Linked DNA regions of Homo sapiens: region 2 is linked to region 1. The links come from fine-mapping of genetic effects on gene expression. Tissue or cell type: testis. Region 1 holds a variant in brackets; the other region holds the start of a gene. All regions are shown on one strand. Distances are from middle to middle.

Region 1 (8,106 bases):
CTATTCAATTTCTAATTTAAAATGGAAAATTACTCACCAAAGGAAACATCACCAAAGTGCAGAGCTGGAACATTAAAATGGAAGGTAGGTCCAATGACACAGCCTCTGGAAGGAGGAATACAAGGTGGGGGAGAGGGAGAGAATCCAGTGAATCAGAGTCACAATCAGGAAGTAGGGCAAGGATAAGTACAAAAACCATACCTTGACTTTATGTCAATTATAGTATCCAGGATTTAAAGAAATGATGACATGATGGTCTATCACAGTGGTTCTTAAAATTCTTTTTCATGATTCAAACCATGGGTTTTGACAAACAATGCTGTGGTTAACTTATTATCTTATTTCTACCAATGAATAGGTGAGAGGCAGAGCAGATGGATCACCAAACAAGGGCACAAAATGTTGTTATTTTGAATGAGACACATATCATGTAAAGTTATTAATGTGTCAAGAAATAAAAATTATAGGTCTAATCATGTAATACACATCAAAGACTATCATTGATACTAGTAATCCCTGTCCATGCTTTCATATAAACTGTTCCAATTCCACTCTTACCACTGTGACATTCCTACCACTGTGACATTCACTCACTGTGATGTTGGCCAGCCACTTTATCTCTATCAGCTTCTGTTTCTCTTCCTCGTGTATAAAAGAGAGGACTGGACTAGGTGACACTGAATGACTCTTTACTCTAAATGTTGGTCTATTTCTCTCTCAGTGTAAGGCTTTATGATCTTGGAGAGATGCTGTAGCTTAAAATAAATAATAGAGAGATTCTATGACTTCTAGCTTAGAAGGTATTGTAGGTAGAATAATGGCTCCCAGAGATATCTATGTCCTAATTCCCAGAACCTATGAATATATTAGGTTACATGGCAAAGAGGAATTAAGGTAGCAGATGGAATTAGGGTTGCTAATTAACTGAATTTAAGATGAGGAGATTATCCTGTCTTATCCTAGTAGGCCCACTGTAATCACAAGGGTGATTTTAAAAATAGAGGAAAGAGACAGAAGAGGAGGTCAGAGTGCTGCAATCTGAGAACTCAACCTGGCTTTGAACACAGAAGAAGGAAACTTTGAACACAGAAGAAGGAATCCAGGAATGTGAGCAGCCTCAGAAAGCCAAAAAAGGTTAGGAAATGGGTTCCCCTCTAGAGCCTTCAGAAGGAAACACAGCCCTGCCAACACTGATTTTAGCCTAGCTAGACCTGCATTAAGTCTATAAAACTGTAAAATATTAAGTATGTGTTGTTTGAAGCTACTAAATTTGTGATAATTTGTTACAACAGCAAAAGAAAACTATTCGGTTATCTTGTTTACCTTCAGAGCAATAATATTTTTCTCCATGATCCATGTAAAGACATGGATTGGTACCTTAGTGATACTTCCGGTTGCTTCAGCTCTGACTATAATGTGATGAGAGGTTGTTGTAAGCCTGGGAGGAATGGCCACAGCAAAGACTCACTGCAACAAGTTTCAGGTCTAACTTTCTCATGAGCATTTATTATATCTCATGCTAACGATCTGAAGTGATTTTAAAGGGAGTGGTTGGGACTCAGCCAGGAATTGGGATCCAGTTGAGAATGAAGTCAACAAACAGGCCGACAGGCTATATGCTTCACTTGAAAAAAAGCTTTTAGGGACCAAAGTAACAAATAGATCAAAAGTGTCTGACATGCGCAAGATGCTAAAGAAAGTAGGAAAGAAGTTTAAAAAATTTACACAAAGCAGACATTTAATCAATGCAGAAGTTTAAACAACCAGAGATACATGACACTTGTTCAAAGGCACATGTAACTGAGGGAATTGTGGCTGAACCATCCCATCTGGACTTAGATATGGTCACATTAATTCTCACAGGGATTCAGAATGTTAGGACAATCTATGCCAAGGCTGTGTCATAAATCAGTGCAGGGGTCTGTTAAAACTATAATTTGAAAGACAAGAGAGAGAATGATTCAATTATTACAATACGTAAGTGAGACAAGTTGAATACAAAATGTATCTGTGCTATGGTTCAAACTTTATAAAATCACATACATAAAAATAGGAGGGAAGAAAATTGCTTGTGGGTAATTTAAAAAATCACACTAATTTTAGTGTTGTTTATCCAACCACTGAAAATATTGTGTTATATAACTGGAAGAGTAAACAGAAAGAGTGAAAGTATAATATTTGTTATGATCTTTCAAGGCACATTAGCTAAAATACTAGCTTATGCAGTACTGAGAAATGAGTACCTGGCAATAAAAAAGTAAGAAACAAAATTCCAGAACCTACGATATTAACTTTATAGACATTTCCTGGGCTATGAGGCCCAAGAAAGTATTTCTGACAAAGTAAAATAACAAGTCAAGTCAGTGTTAATGTGTGGAGCTGAGAACAGATGATGTATTATACATGCATTTTTGCCCTTTATGAGTAGACATTTATTCATGACACTAGATTTTTAACAGGTTTTCAAAATTATTGTTAGTGGTTTGAAATGCTACAAACCACTAACAATTCAACACTATTGGACAAATGAAACACTGAGCTTTAAAGGAAGTGAACTGAGGAGGAAATTTATGTAAGTCTATTTCTCTTAGCAATTGATCATGAGTTTGGTGATAAATCCCCATAAAGATTCTTTCCATAGTCAGGTTTGTTGAAGGAAACTAGAAATGAACATCCAAAATCAAGAAGTGGCATGTGAATTTTGGTAAATGGAAATGTCCAGAAGATAGAACAAGAGGCTTACCCTGCACAGAGCAGGTGGAGTACTAACTAGTCCAAGTTCACTTGTGAGCAGATTCCTGGGAGATCCCTAAATCCTATTATTCCCAATGGAAAACCCAAGTACACCTTAACCTATTTAGACATTGCAAGTGACATGCATGACTACTCTGGGATCTTTAGGAGAACAGATCAGAGATTTAAAAAATTCACCCAGGAAATTACAGAAGTATTATTCACTATTACAGCCTCCTGGAATTTTTTTTTAAATGACAGCTTCATTGAGATATAATTCACACATCATACAATTCACACATTTAAAGTGTACAAATCAATGTTTTTTGTATATTCACAAATATATGCAACCATCACTACAGTCAATTTGAGAACGTTTTTATCACCTCAAAAAGAAACCTCATGCCCTTTAGCTGTCACCCACTATCCTGCACCCTCCAGCCCTAAGCAACCACTAATCTACCTCAGATCTATATAGATTTGCCTACTTTAACCATTTCATATAAATGGAATCATGTAATGTGGTCTTTCGTGACCGGGTTCTTTCATAATGTTTTCAAGGTTCATAATGGATGAACCTTATTTTCAAGGTTTATAATGGTGTCATTATGGCTGAACCTTGAAATCATTATGACAAGTGAAAGAAGCTAGTCACAAAAGACCGTGGTAGCAAGGTTCATTCATGCTACCATGTTGTAGCATCTATCAGTGCTTCATTTTTTTTCATTCCTTTTTATGGTCAAATAGTATTCCATTGTATAGATATAACACATTTCATTTATCTTTGGCTACTATGAATGATACTGTTATAAACATTCATGTACAAGTTTTTGTGTGGATATATGCTTTCATTCCTCTTGGGTATATACCTAGGAGTGGAATTGCTGGTCATATGGTAACTCAGTGTTTACATGTTTGAGGTGCTGATAAATCATTTTCTAAAGTGGCTGCCATGTCTTACATTCCTAATTACCAGTGTATGGGAGTTCTCATTCCTCCACCTTTTCACCAATACTTACAGTAGTTCCTTATCTGTAGTTTTGATTTTCTGTTGTTTCAGTTACTTATGGTCAACACGGTCCAAAAATATTAAATAAAAAATTTCCAGAAACAAATCAGTCAGAAATTGTTAAGTGCACTTTGCGTAGTGTGATGAAGTCTTGTGTCATCCACTCTCTGTCCAGCCGAGGTCATGAGTCACCCTTTTGTCCAGTGTATCGATGCTGCATATGCTACCCGCTCTTTAGTCACTTAGTAGCTGTCTTGGTTATCAGATCAACTGCCACAGTATTGCAGTGCTTGTGTCTGAGTAACCCTAATTTTACTTTTGCGCTTTGGGGCCTAAAAATGCAGATAAAGGGAAACTACTGTATTTTCCATTTTAAGATTATAGCCATCCAAGTGAGTGTGAAGTAGTATCTCATTGTGGGGTTTTGATTTACATCTCCCTGAGGATTAATGATATTGACAGTCTTTTCATGTGTTATTGGCCTCTTGTATATCTTCTTTGAGAAATGTCTGCTTAAACGCTTTGTCCATTTTTAAATTGAATTATTTATTGAGTTATAATTGTCCAATAATTTATTGTCCCTTATCAGATATATGAGTTGCACATACTTTCTCCCATTGTGAAGGTTGTCTTTTCACTTTCTTGACAGTATCCCCTTTCAAGCACAAACTTTTTTACATTCTGATGAAGTCTAATTTATTTATTTTTTCTTTGGTTGCTTGTGCTTAGATGCTGATTATCTGAAAACTATTGCTTATTTGGTTTTTGGATATGGATATTTAACCCTATTTTTTTTGTTTGTTTGTTTTTGAGACAGAGTCTCACTCTGTCACCCAGGCTGCAGTGCAGTGGCACAATCTCCGCTCACTGCAATCTCCACCTCCTGGGTTCAAGTGATTCTCCTGCCTCAGCCTCTCAAGTAGCTGGAATTACAGGCATGCATCACCATGCCCAGTTAATTTTTTTGTATTTTTAGTAGAGACAGGGTTTCACCATGTTGGCCAGGCTGGTCTCGAACTCCTGGCCTCAGGTAATCTGCCTGCCTCAGCCTCCCAAAGTGCTGAGATTACAGGCATGAGCCACCACACC[G/A]GGCCTATCCATATGTTGTCTTCTAACAGTTTTATAGTTTCAGCCCTTACATTTCAGTCTTTGATCCATGTAGAGGCAGTTCCCTTCTACTCCTAGTTTGTTACTTTTTTTTTTTAATCATAAAAGGGTGCTAAATTTTGGCAAATGCTTTTTCTGTGTTTACTGAAATAATCATGTGGTTTTTGTCCTTTATTCTATTAATATGTTGTATTACATTGATTGATTTTCTTATGTTAAGCCAACCTTTCATCATTCAGGATAAATCCCACTTCGTCATGGGGTATAATCCTTTCCACATGTTGCTGGATTTGGTTTGCTAGTATTTTGTCAAAGATTTTTGGGTCTAAATCCATAAAGGTTATGGGTTTTTAGCTTTCTTTTCTTGTAATGTTTTCATTTGGTTTTGGTATCAGGGTAATACTGGCCTCATAAAATGAGTTGAAAAGTGTTCCCACCTTCTTATTTTTTGGAAGAGTTTGTGAAAGATTTATGACAATTCTTCATTAAACATTCAGTAGAATTTACCAGTGAAGCCACTTGATCTTGTTTTTTGTTTGTTTGTTTTTTGGTTGGAATATATTACAGGTCTATTCAGATTTTCTATTTCTTCTTGAGTCAGTTTTGGTAGTTCGTGTCTTTCTAGGAATTTGTTCATATCATCTACATTATCTAATTTTTGGCATACAATTGTTCATAGCATTATCCACTAATCCTTTTAATTTCTGTAAGGTTGGTAGTAATGTCCTTTCTTTTATTCCTGTTGGGTAGAGTGTGCTGTAGATGTCTGTTAGGTCTAGGTGGTTTATAGTGTTCAACTCTTCTATTTCCTTTGTGATCTTCTGCTTAGTTTTTTATTATTGAAAGTGGGGTATTGACATCCCTTACTATTTTGCTGAATTGTCTATTTCTCCCTTCAATTCTATCTTTCTGCACTTCACAGATTTTGGTGCTCTGTTATTAGATGTGTGTTTATAATTGCCATATCTTTTTGATGAACTCACTATCTTATCATTGTAAAATGCCCTTCTTTGTCTTGAGTAACAATTTTTATTTTAAAGTCTATTTTGTCTGATATAACATAGACTCTCCAGCTTTCTTTTGGTACTGCTTGCATGGTGTATATATTTCCATCCTTTTGGTTTCAACCTATTCATATCTTTAAATCTAAAGTGTGGTATCTTGTAAAAAGCATATAGATACAAGATAGATATCTTGTAAAAAGCAAAAAGATATAGATTTTTGGCGGGGTTGTTTGTTTTGTTCTAATCCATTCTGCCATTCTCTAACTTTTAATTGAAGTATTTAATACATTGACATTTAATGTAATTGTTGATAGGGCAGGACTCATGCTACTTATTTTCTATATGTCTCATATCTTTTCTGTTCCTCTATTCCTCCATTACTGCCTTTCTTTGTGTTAAATGGATATTTTCTACCCTTTTGAATTCCTTTGTTATTTCTTTTACTGTATTTTTAAGTTTCTTTAGGGAATAGTTTAAAGAATGGGCAATCCTGAATTTGGGTAAATAATTCAGAGTCAAAAATGAGGGCAGTAGTATTCATGCATCAGGAATGTCTAACAAACCCAAATACATGAGTTCTTGCACCTAATATACAACCTTGCTTGAAGGAGGTACTCAATAAGAGTTTATTTAACAAATATCCAAAATACATATTTATTCCTAAAAGGGGTAGCTATGTATGTTGATGGTAAGACACAGTATTATTAGGCCTGAACTTAAAATGGGGAATGGCCAGGTGAAATTGGGATGGGCTTTCTTATTAAACTTGAGGGGCAGTTAGCCTTCCTTGGCTAGCACTTTCCCTTTCTTTCATCTACCTGAAAAGTAAAACTGCTCCTTTAATATCCTATACTTTCCTTCCTACAGATAGGGCCATTATTCCTTCTATCTTAAATGTTTTTAGAGCAGAGCTTAAAGGTTTTATCTTTGCTGCTTATGTATGAAGGCTTGCTTATGATACTGGATGTTGTCAAGGGTGCTTATGACTCAGAGCAATACTTCCTGATGCCCAGTAGTCAGCTTCCAAGAGTTGATCTGCTGGATCATATCAAAGGCCCTCATGGGACTAGAGGATCCGTGAATTGGAGACAAGGTTATATTCACAAGTTTGTTCTTCCTACTTCTTCAGAGAACCACCCTTCACTGCTTGTCATGAGAGATGAGATGTTATGAAGGTAGGAAGTGGGCTGAAGTTCATATAAATGAAAGTGTATTCCCACCCTTCTCATGTTGTATACATACCCAAAGGATGTTAACCATGGGCTGGGATAAGCACGGCACATATTCGTGAAGAGTCAATGTTATTCAAATATTTGGAAAACAACCCTCATTTTTCTCTTATAACAAACACACATGTATTATGGAAGAGAACGTAAATGTCTTGTGAATGTTTCAGATAAGTCTTGAGACTTAAAAATAAAAAAGATTATGATTGTGACAGGTTGCTTTGGTCATGCCACAGAACCCTTGAGGCACACACGTTCACTCTCCTTAGTTGTTGGGGGTTGTATGACTTTGCTAGGGCTGCCATAACAAAGTACCCTAGACTGGGTGGCTTAAACAACATAAGTTTATTTCTGTTGCTGTCAGACGGGTTGGTGATTGCAGGGTTATTTTTTTCTGAGGGTCTCTCGCTTCAGCTTCTCTTTATTTTTTCACATGGCCCTTTTCTATGTGTATGTCTGTGTCCTAATGTCCTCTCCTTATAAGGACACCAATCATATTGGATTAAAGCCCACCCATCTGACCTCATTTTGCCTTAATTACCTCTTTAAAGGCCCTATGTCCAAGAAGAGTTACATTCCGAGGTACTGGGTGTTAGGACTTCAACATATAAATTCTGCGGGAAACAATTCAGTGCATAACAGGGACACTGAGGTGGAAGAGTTGAGAATAAATAGTAATCACCTTTCAGCTAATCTTGAGATTCTGAATGTATAGTATATATCATGAGATCAGTACATTTTCCTTGGATCCTTCAGGTCATATGTCTCTATCTCTTTTCTATGTTATCCCCAGGGCTTGCCCCAAGGGAGACCTCAGCTTGTAGATGGAGGGAGGTCTTGCTAGCAGTTACCAGAATAAGAGAAACTGCCATGGTAATTAACAACCTGCTGCTGTGGGAATCCAAACAGAGTCAGAGCAATGTGTTTACAATGCTTGGAGACATAATAGTGAGATCATGTAAGTAATTTCCTTAAAATAAGAACAAAAGACAAAAGTTTAGAGAAACTGTGATAATGGCCAAAGCTT
Region 2 (8,106 bases), 800 kb after region 1:
CCTTTGCTCTTAGCATAAAGAACAGATGCTCTATAAGGTCTTACTTGATTCAGCCCCTGCCTGTCTCCCATCCAAGTACTAAGCAGGTTGATCCTGATTAGCTTCTGAGATCAGACCCCTGCCTAGCTATGTCTCTAACCTTACCTCATGCCTCTCTTGCTTTGCTTACAATGCTTTAGCTATACTGACATTCTTTCATTTCCTCAAATGCTATTTTTTTACTACATACTATTCCCTCTGCCAAAAATGCTTTTCCTGTTACCTCACTGTTAGCTTCTACTTCAAATCTTAGCTCAAATGCCACCTTCTCAAAGAAACATGAGGCCTAAACTCCCAGATGAATCCCGTCTCTCGTTATATATTTTCTTTTCTTTTTTTTTTCCCGAGACAGAGTCTCACTCTGTCACCCAGGCTGGAGTACAGTGGTGCAATCTTGGCTCACTGCAATCGCTGTCTCCTGGGTTCAAGCAATTCTCCTGCCCCAGCCTCCCGAGTAGCTGGGATTACAGGCGTATGCCACCATACCTGGCTATTTTTTTTTTTTTTTTTTTTTGAGACGGAGTCTGGCTCTGTTGCCCAGGCTGGAGTGCAGTGGCACGATCTCGGCTCACTGCAACCTCCGCTTCCCGGGTTCATGCTATTTTCCTGCCTCAGCCTCCCAAGTAGCTGGGACTACAGATGCCCGCCACCACACCCAGCTAATTTTTTGTATTTTTAGTATAGACGGGGTTTCCCGGTATTAGCCAGGATGGTCTCGATCTCCTGACCTCGTGATCCGCCCACCTTGGCCTCCCAAAGTGCTGGGATTACAGGCGTGAACCACCATGCCCGGCTACCTGGCTAATTTTTATAATTTTAGTAGAGATGGGGTTTCAACATGTTGCCCAGGCTGGTCTCGAACTCCTGGCCTCATGCAATTCGCCTGCCTCAGTCTCCCAAAGTCTCCATTATATATTTTCATAACACCTCATACTTTTCCTTCATGGCACTTATTACAGTTTAATTATATACTGATGTGATTTTCTGATTAATGCATGTCTCATAATACTATGACAGTTCCTTCATAGGAATATTTCCTTCATAGTACTTATCACCGTTTAATGATATATCGATGTGATTTTCCGATTAATGTATGTCTCCTATACTAAAGCCCCATGGCAGAGACCATGATTTTTTCATTGTTATACACCACGATGTCTGGCACATAGCAAATACTTGGTAAATACAATCACATTTCATACACTTGACAATCAAGAAGAATCCACAATTAAGGCAAGTCACAGTTCCAGGGGTTAAAATTCCTTACCTATCAAGCTGAGTTTAGGAACCAGGTACATGTCCTTTTCATTAATGACAAGTGTGGGGGCAGGTGGTGGTGGCCCAGGGTCTGAATTCTCAGTGGTAGGTACCGAAGGGCAGCGTTGTACAAAGTGTGTGTCTGCCAGTCGCACAAATGTGTTTGATACTTCAGCATAGTCCATGGTCTTGCCATCTGTATAACAGGAGGAAAAAGGCAGATGAGATGGCCTAAGATAGCTCAGGGTTCACTCCCATAGCCAGCTGATCTATGCTTTTGTTAACAGCTATGGATACCATACTGACCCTCCATGGTCTCTGTGAGCCGGTCTGCCACTTTCTTCACAACAGCTGACATTGTCAGTTTGCCGTTCAACAGAAGCTCCTCAACAATCAGCTCTCCAGTGTCACTGTACAGAGTTTTGGTAGTATAGATGTACCGGGGATATCTAAGCATTCGCAATACCCGGCTGCACTGGGCTTCATACTCCACCACACCACGTTTGTGCACTTGATAACTCACCAGGTTATGTTGGACGAGGACACACAGGGCTTTCTTCACCTAAATGGAACATAAAGAGAAGAAAGAGAGGAAAGACCTGAAGATATAGCTCATTACTGCTGGCAATTTTTTGTCCAACAGCTTAGTAAGCATCAGAAAATGGCTAGATAATTTCTGCACTTATTTCCTCTCTCCACTGGAGGAGCTAATAAGAATCACACATCAATACAATAAATCAGGAAGATTCCTTGCTATATTTCCTCTGATCCTTATCTCTCAAAACACAATTTACTTTCATCATTCTCATTCCTTAAAGGCAGTACTGAGATTAATAGACTTATTGTGAATAAATGAGGTACGGCATGGGAAGAGCAAAGATTTGCCTAAAAGCTGTGATGAACTAGGAACACTTTGAGAAACAAAATGTTGATGTCTAAGTCTCATCCTTTTCTCCCCGAAATAACATTGTTCTGCTCCAAGGGCAGGCTTTCTTCATTTTTCCTTTTCTGGGGTGAGAAGAACAATATTCAAAGGTGGGTGAAATAAATTAGTGAAAGAAATGAGAGAAAATGAATGTCATTTAGACATACCTGATCCAGTGATGTTCCTGTGTCATGGGCAATTACTCTTAGTGGCTGGCTGCCGGTTCTTATCAGATGGACTCCAATTTTTTCTACAATCTCTCCAAAATGCTCTTGCAGCAACAAAGAACAGAGCTTAATTTCTGCTTGAGTCATTGTACTGGGGAGTCTGAGAGCTAGGGAAAAAACACCAAAATGGTACAATAGAAAGTCTTTCACGCTGGAAGCAGAGCTGCTGAGTGTAAATTCATGTATTCTTTCTGGAGGGCAATTTGACAATACATATCAAAAAGCCTTAAAAATCTTGCATATCTTTGAAACAACAATTTCTTTTTGGATATTGTGTCCAAAGAAAGAAAAAGCTAATAATAATGAAGTCATTAGTTCTCTTTATAATACCGACTTAGTGGAAACAATCTAACGTCTAACAATAAATGATGCCATACCCATACAATGGCATACTACACCAACATTTAAAGTTATTTAGTACGATGCGTATTCATGTAGAAAATTATTCATAATAGGCTGGCGCGGTGGCTCAGGCCTGTAATCCTAGCACTTTGGGAGACCGAGGTGGGCGTATCATGAGGTCAGGAGTTTGAGACCAGCCTGGCCAATATAGTGAAACCCCTTCTCTACTAAAAACACACAAAAAAATTAGCTGGGCGTGGTGGCGGGTGCCTGTAATCCCAGCTACTAGGGAGGCTGAGACAGGAGAATCGCTTGAAGCCGGGAGGCAGAGGTTGCAGTGAGCCGAGATCGCGCCACTGCACTCCAACCCGGGCGACAGTGCGAGATTCTGTCTCCAAAACAAAAAAAAACAAAAAAAATTACTCATAATATATTAAGTGACAGAAGCAAGCTGAAAAAATATAAAAATTCAATTATTGTAAAAAAAAAGGAAAAATGTATGCATAGGAAAAGACTATGCATCAAATTTATCTCTATGGGATTATGCGTGATTCTGATTTTCCTTAAAGATTGGGAGATGATTTTGCGGTCTGTCACAGACCTTAGTTTCTACACTTCACTGCTTGGAAGAATTAAGGTCACTGTTCACAGCTCGGTGGGAGTGAACAGGCAGTGTTATTCTCAGTCCATAAAGGAAATGATAATTTCGAAAAAGAAATTTAGGAGGTAAAGGACTGCTTCTCAACAGGGTGTGTCAAACAGGAGATGAGGTTACGTTGTTTGCAGGACAGTATTCAATTCTTAAACTTCTACTCCTTGACAAAGTTGACACAATCAGAAACGGACGTAGTTAATTTTATGATTACTTCCTTATTACAAATTGCTACCAAACATTGTTTACTTATTTCTTCCAATTCCTAAGAAGCCAAGTCTTTGCCTCCCCGTCCCCACCCCGCCTCAGTATCACCAGAGACCTATTTCGTCCATCCACATATCTTTGGAGAAGCATTCCCAGATCCTTTGCCATCCTCGGAAAGGGCTTCCAAGGCGCTTGGCTCCTAGCTCTACACTTCCTTTACACAGGTTCCCGTTTCGGACGTGGTCTCTTGGTCCAGTCAGTGCCGCCACGTTCAGACAGCATTTTCCACTAACCTCAGGGTCAGCGCAATCCGGGGGCTCCAACTCCAATTCGGCTGAGCTTCCCGCGACGGCTTCCTACGGCTCCCGCTGGCCTTCTAGGCCGAGGTGGAGCCCACCGCCCTTTCTAGGACGCGGATCGCCACCGAAGAAGACGCGGAAAAGCAAAAAGCGCGTGCCACTCTACCCCAGAGTTTCGGCGGCTTCCGGGGACGCTCTTTCTTTCTTCTCGCTGGAAGACTGGAGGACCAGCGAGGGGCTGTTTGTGGAGCCGGCGGGCGGGCCGTTTGTCTCTCCTTCCTGCGCCTCTTTGGTGCTGGGAGGCGGGCCGCAGGGTAGCTGTTGGCGCCGCCGCGTTTCTGGGCCTGGCCAACTCACGTGACCGACGCGGGCTCTGAAGCGGTGGGCCGCACCGAGGCGGCGGCGGCGGCGACGACTGCAGCTCGGGAGGTAGCGGCCTGGCGAGGGACGGGCCGGCTGCCCTCTCGGACGGCCGCGGCGGAGGGCAAAAATGGCGGAGGCTTCGGCGGCCGGGGCGGACTCGGGCGCCGCTGTAGCCGCCCACCGGTTTTTCTGCCACTTTTGCAAGGGCGAGGTCAGCCCCAAACTACCGGTAAGAGCGCTGTGTTCTCTATACTTGGGAACCTCATAGATTCCTGGCCCCGATTTCCCGGAACTGGGTCTGGAGCTTTCTGCACATCATTGACTCGCCCGACATCGGTCTGCCGAATACCTGCTGCCCACTTCTAAGCCGCCGGCCCTAAACCCTGGGCATCACGGCCTCGGCCCCGTACCTCCTGCCCACCTCTTAATTCATCCTGGGCTGCTCCACCTGACCTCACCTCTTTACCTCCCGTGTCCTTAATTTTTTTTTTTCTTAGCAAGTTTCCCTCTGATAACTCTCCCCTCAATTTTCTTGCATTCTTTTATACCTGGTCTTTTTCCTACGATGACCTCCCCCCACACTTCTTCCACTGTGTCTTCTCACCTTCCTCTGTGTTCTTTTCCACTTTTCACCCCCCACCGCCCCCGCCACCTCCCTTGTCAGTGAAGCGAAATAGCGGATTGCTGAGGATTGTCACTCTTCGGTTTTTTCTAGGGAAGGAAGCACAGAAAGGGGGTTGGAAGGTATCTGTGGGGCGAAAAGGGGGATTTTGCTCTTCAGTGGTTTCCAGGGTCCTTGTGACAGTGAAGACAGCAGCGTACTAATGACTTGCAGACGGTCTGCACTCCTATCACTGTTGAAGGAAATGGCTTTAGGAAGAAGGCAGGACGTACTGTTTCAACTTCGTTTATTTTGGTTGTCATGCTGCCAGTGTCTTTAATATCATTGTTCCGCCCCCCGCCCTGTCCCTTTCTTCACCTAAGAAAAAGAGCCGGGACAGAATGTTGGGGATGCTTCCTCTGACGTGAAATTGGTTTTCACGAGTTTCTGCCAGAGTGTTAGCCCCTTGAGAGGCAGTGCTGTGGTTGGGAAGAAAACACTTTTGTAGGTCAGGCGCGGTGGCTTAGGTCTGTAATCCCAGTGCTTTGGGAGGACGAGGCAGGAGGATTGCTTGAGGCCAGGAGTTTGAGACCAGCCTGGGCAACAGAGTGAGACCCCTCTCTACAAAAACAAACAACATTTATGCAGCATACTAGCCAGCACCAGCATCACAAACCCAGAAACTGTTTTGGGTTGGGTTGTAGCTACTACGAGGAGCTCCCCCAGAGTGAATGTCAATCCTGTCCTTGGCCAACTGTCTTTATGGTTGTTCCTTTCCTTACAAGTGTCCAGGTTCAGTCTTGTGATAGAGTGGCAACATAATGTATGTTTCTATTTATGGTGTCTCAGATACAGTGTAGGAGAAAACCTTCTGAAGTGAGTCTGTATATCTTATTTCTTAGAAACACAAATGGAGTCCAGTGAATAAGTGCTTAAAGGGTGTTTTATAGTCTTCTCTCACTCAAAAGTTTTGTTTAAGGCATTATGATACATTCTTTCCTCTCTACTTGCCGCACCCCCTACTTCAGAGTCATAGTTTCATCTAAATGCTACTTAGCTGTTTTTCTTTTTTCTTTTTTTTTTTTTGAGACAGCCTCTGTCTATCACCCAGGAGCATGATTTCGGCTGACTGCAACCTCCACCTGCCGGGTTCAAGAGAGTCTCCTGCCTCGGCCTCCGGGTAGCTGGGACTATAGGTGCACGACCACCGCACCCTGGCTAATTTTTGTGTTTTTAGTAGAGATGCAGTTTCACCATGTTGGCCAGGCTGGTCTCGAACTCTTGACCTCAAGTGATCCACCCGACTCGGGCTCCCAGAGTGCTGGGATTACAGGCGTGAGCCACTGCTCCCCGCCTAAATGCTACTTAGCTTTGTTTGCTGATTTTGCTGTGTGTTTATGTTTTTTTTTTTGGCCATATTTCAGTGCTGGGAAGAGCAGGTGTCTAGTTTTTTTCCAGCCAACATCAGAGCCTGCAGAACTCTTCTACCATAGAGAGGGAGTCTGGAATTCAGCCAGTATGTGTGTGACCAGTGGTGTGTTGTTGAATGTGATGCCTTGTTGAATATTCCATCCTTAGCTTTTTTGATCTTTAAGTTGCTGTTCACTATTTTGCCTTTAAGAGTGAGAAGTTGGCCAGGCGTGGTGGCTCAGGCCTGTAATCCCAATACTTTGGGAGTCCAAGGCAGGCAGATCGCTTGAGCTCAGGAGTTCGAGACTAGCCTGGGCAACATGGAGAAACCCCGTCTCTACCAAAAAATAAAAAAATTTGCCGTGTGTGTGGTGGCATGCACCTGTAGTCCCAGCTATTCAGGAGGCTGAGGTAGGAGGATTGCCTGACCCCAGGAAGCAGAGGTTGCAGTGAGCTGAGATCGCACCATTGCACTCCAGCCTGGGCAATAGAGCCAGACCCTGTCTCAAAAAAAAAAAAAAAAAAAAAAAAAGAGTGAGAAGACAGTCTAAACTTCCCCAATTGATTATATCTTTTCTTCTCACCTTTAAGTCCTTACTTCAAAGGGATAATTTGAAAAGCTGAATAGGTGTTTTTCTAAGCCTTAGTTAATGCCTGGAGAAGTTTCTTGATCTTTTTGGTGTGATATATTATTTGTCATATCTGATTTGTAAATTGAGGCCTAACACAATTGAGTATAACCGGATTCTTCCTAAATATATCCAAGGTTCTCTGCTGAGTGTCCTGGAGGTGATAGGGAGTGATATGTGGCTCCTGCCCTTAAGGATCTTACAGCTTTTGGGGAAAGACAAGGCAAACATAGAAAAAGTAACAGCATAAAGGGAATGAGGATATGTGCTTTAGGATTCAGAGAGGGGAATTTCATAGCATTGGTGTGGCCAGTGGGATTTAAATTGAGTTTTGAGGGATGGGTACATTTCAGATTGAGAATTCCAAAGACTGTGAGGTAGCAAAAGGAAGAGGGAGTTGATGAAGAAGGGAGAAATATTTAATAAATCATGTTTTTTTCACAACTAAAAGTTGTATACTATATTTTTTATAGTGTTCAGCATGATTTGATATATGTATACACTGAATGGTTAAATCAAGCTATTTAACATGCATTACCTCACATACTTATTTTTGCGTGGTGAGAACACTTAAAATCTGTCTTAGCAATTTTCAAATATACAGTATATTCCCTTTTTCTTTTTTTGAGACTGAGTCTCGCTCTGTCACCAGGCTGGAGTGCAGTGGTGCGATCTCGGTTCACTACAACCTCCACCTCCTGGGTTCAAGCAGTTCTCCTGCCTCGGCCTCCCAAGTAGTGGGGACTACAGGCACGTGCCACCATGCCCAGCTAATTTTTGTATTTTTAGTAGAGACGGGGTTTCACCATGTTGGCCAGGATGGTCTCCATCTCGACCTTGTGATATGCCCACCTTGGCCTCCCAAAGTGGTGGGATTACAGGTGTGAGCCACTGCACCCGGCCTCTTTTTTTCTTTTTAAATAGAGACAGAATTTATTCTGTCTTGTTGCCCAGGCTGTTCTTGAATTTGTGGGCTCAATGTGTCCTCCCACTATATCCTCCTGAGTAGTAGTAGATAGGTGTGTTCCACCATGCCTGGCTAATTTTTTTTTCTTTTTTGTAGAGATGGGATTTTGCCATGTTGCCCCGGCTGGTCTCAAATTTCTGGGCTTAAGCAATCTGCCTGCCTCAGCCTCCCAAAGTGCTGGGGTTACA

Which allele goes with the higher level. Positions count from the first base shown, and alleles are read on the strand shown. Sizes are in standard deviations (SD) of each study's normalised expression.
As copies of G replace A in region 1, the expression in testis of the gene that starts at base 4,112 in region 2 goes up (small effect, 0.26 SD a copy in GTEx).

The links. PIP is the estimated chance that this variant, and not a neighbour inherited with it, causes the effect.
Region 2: it holds the start of POLR3C, and the variant in region 1 is fine-mapped to the expression of POLR3C in testis (GTEx, PIP above 0.99).

The regions. Positions count from the first base shown.
Region 1 is chr1:146,623,008-146,631,113 of GRCh38, reverse strand. It overlaps the pseudogene HYDIN2. Among named protein-coding and RNA genes, the nearest start is that of TRN-GTT24-1, 260 kb to the right of the region's middle. The variant G/A (reference allele first, on the strand shown) is at 4,832.
Region 2 is chr1:145,820,206-145,828,311 of GRCh38, reverse strand. It overlaps POLR3C (RNA polymerase III subunit C), which reads right to left and starts at 4,112. Exons shown (of 15, transcript NM_006468.8): 1 at 3,943-4,112; 2 at 2,389-2,555; 3 at 1,603-1,858; 4 at 1,307-1,492. The coding sequence starts at 2,535. RNF115 (ring finger protein 115) reads left to right here and starts at 4,217. Exons shown (of 9, transcript NM_014455.4): 1 at 4,217-4,540. The coding sequence starts at 4,439. RefSeq lists an enhancer at 3,852-4,251.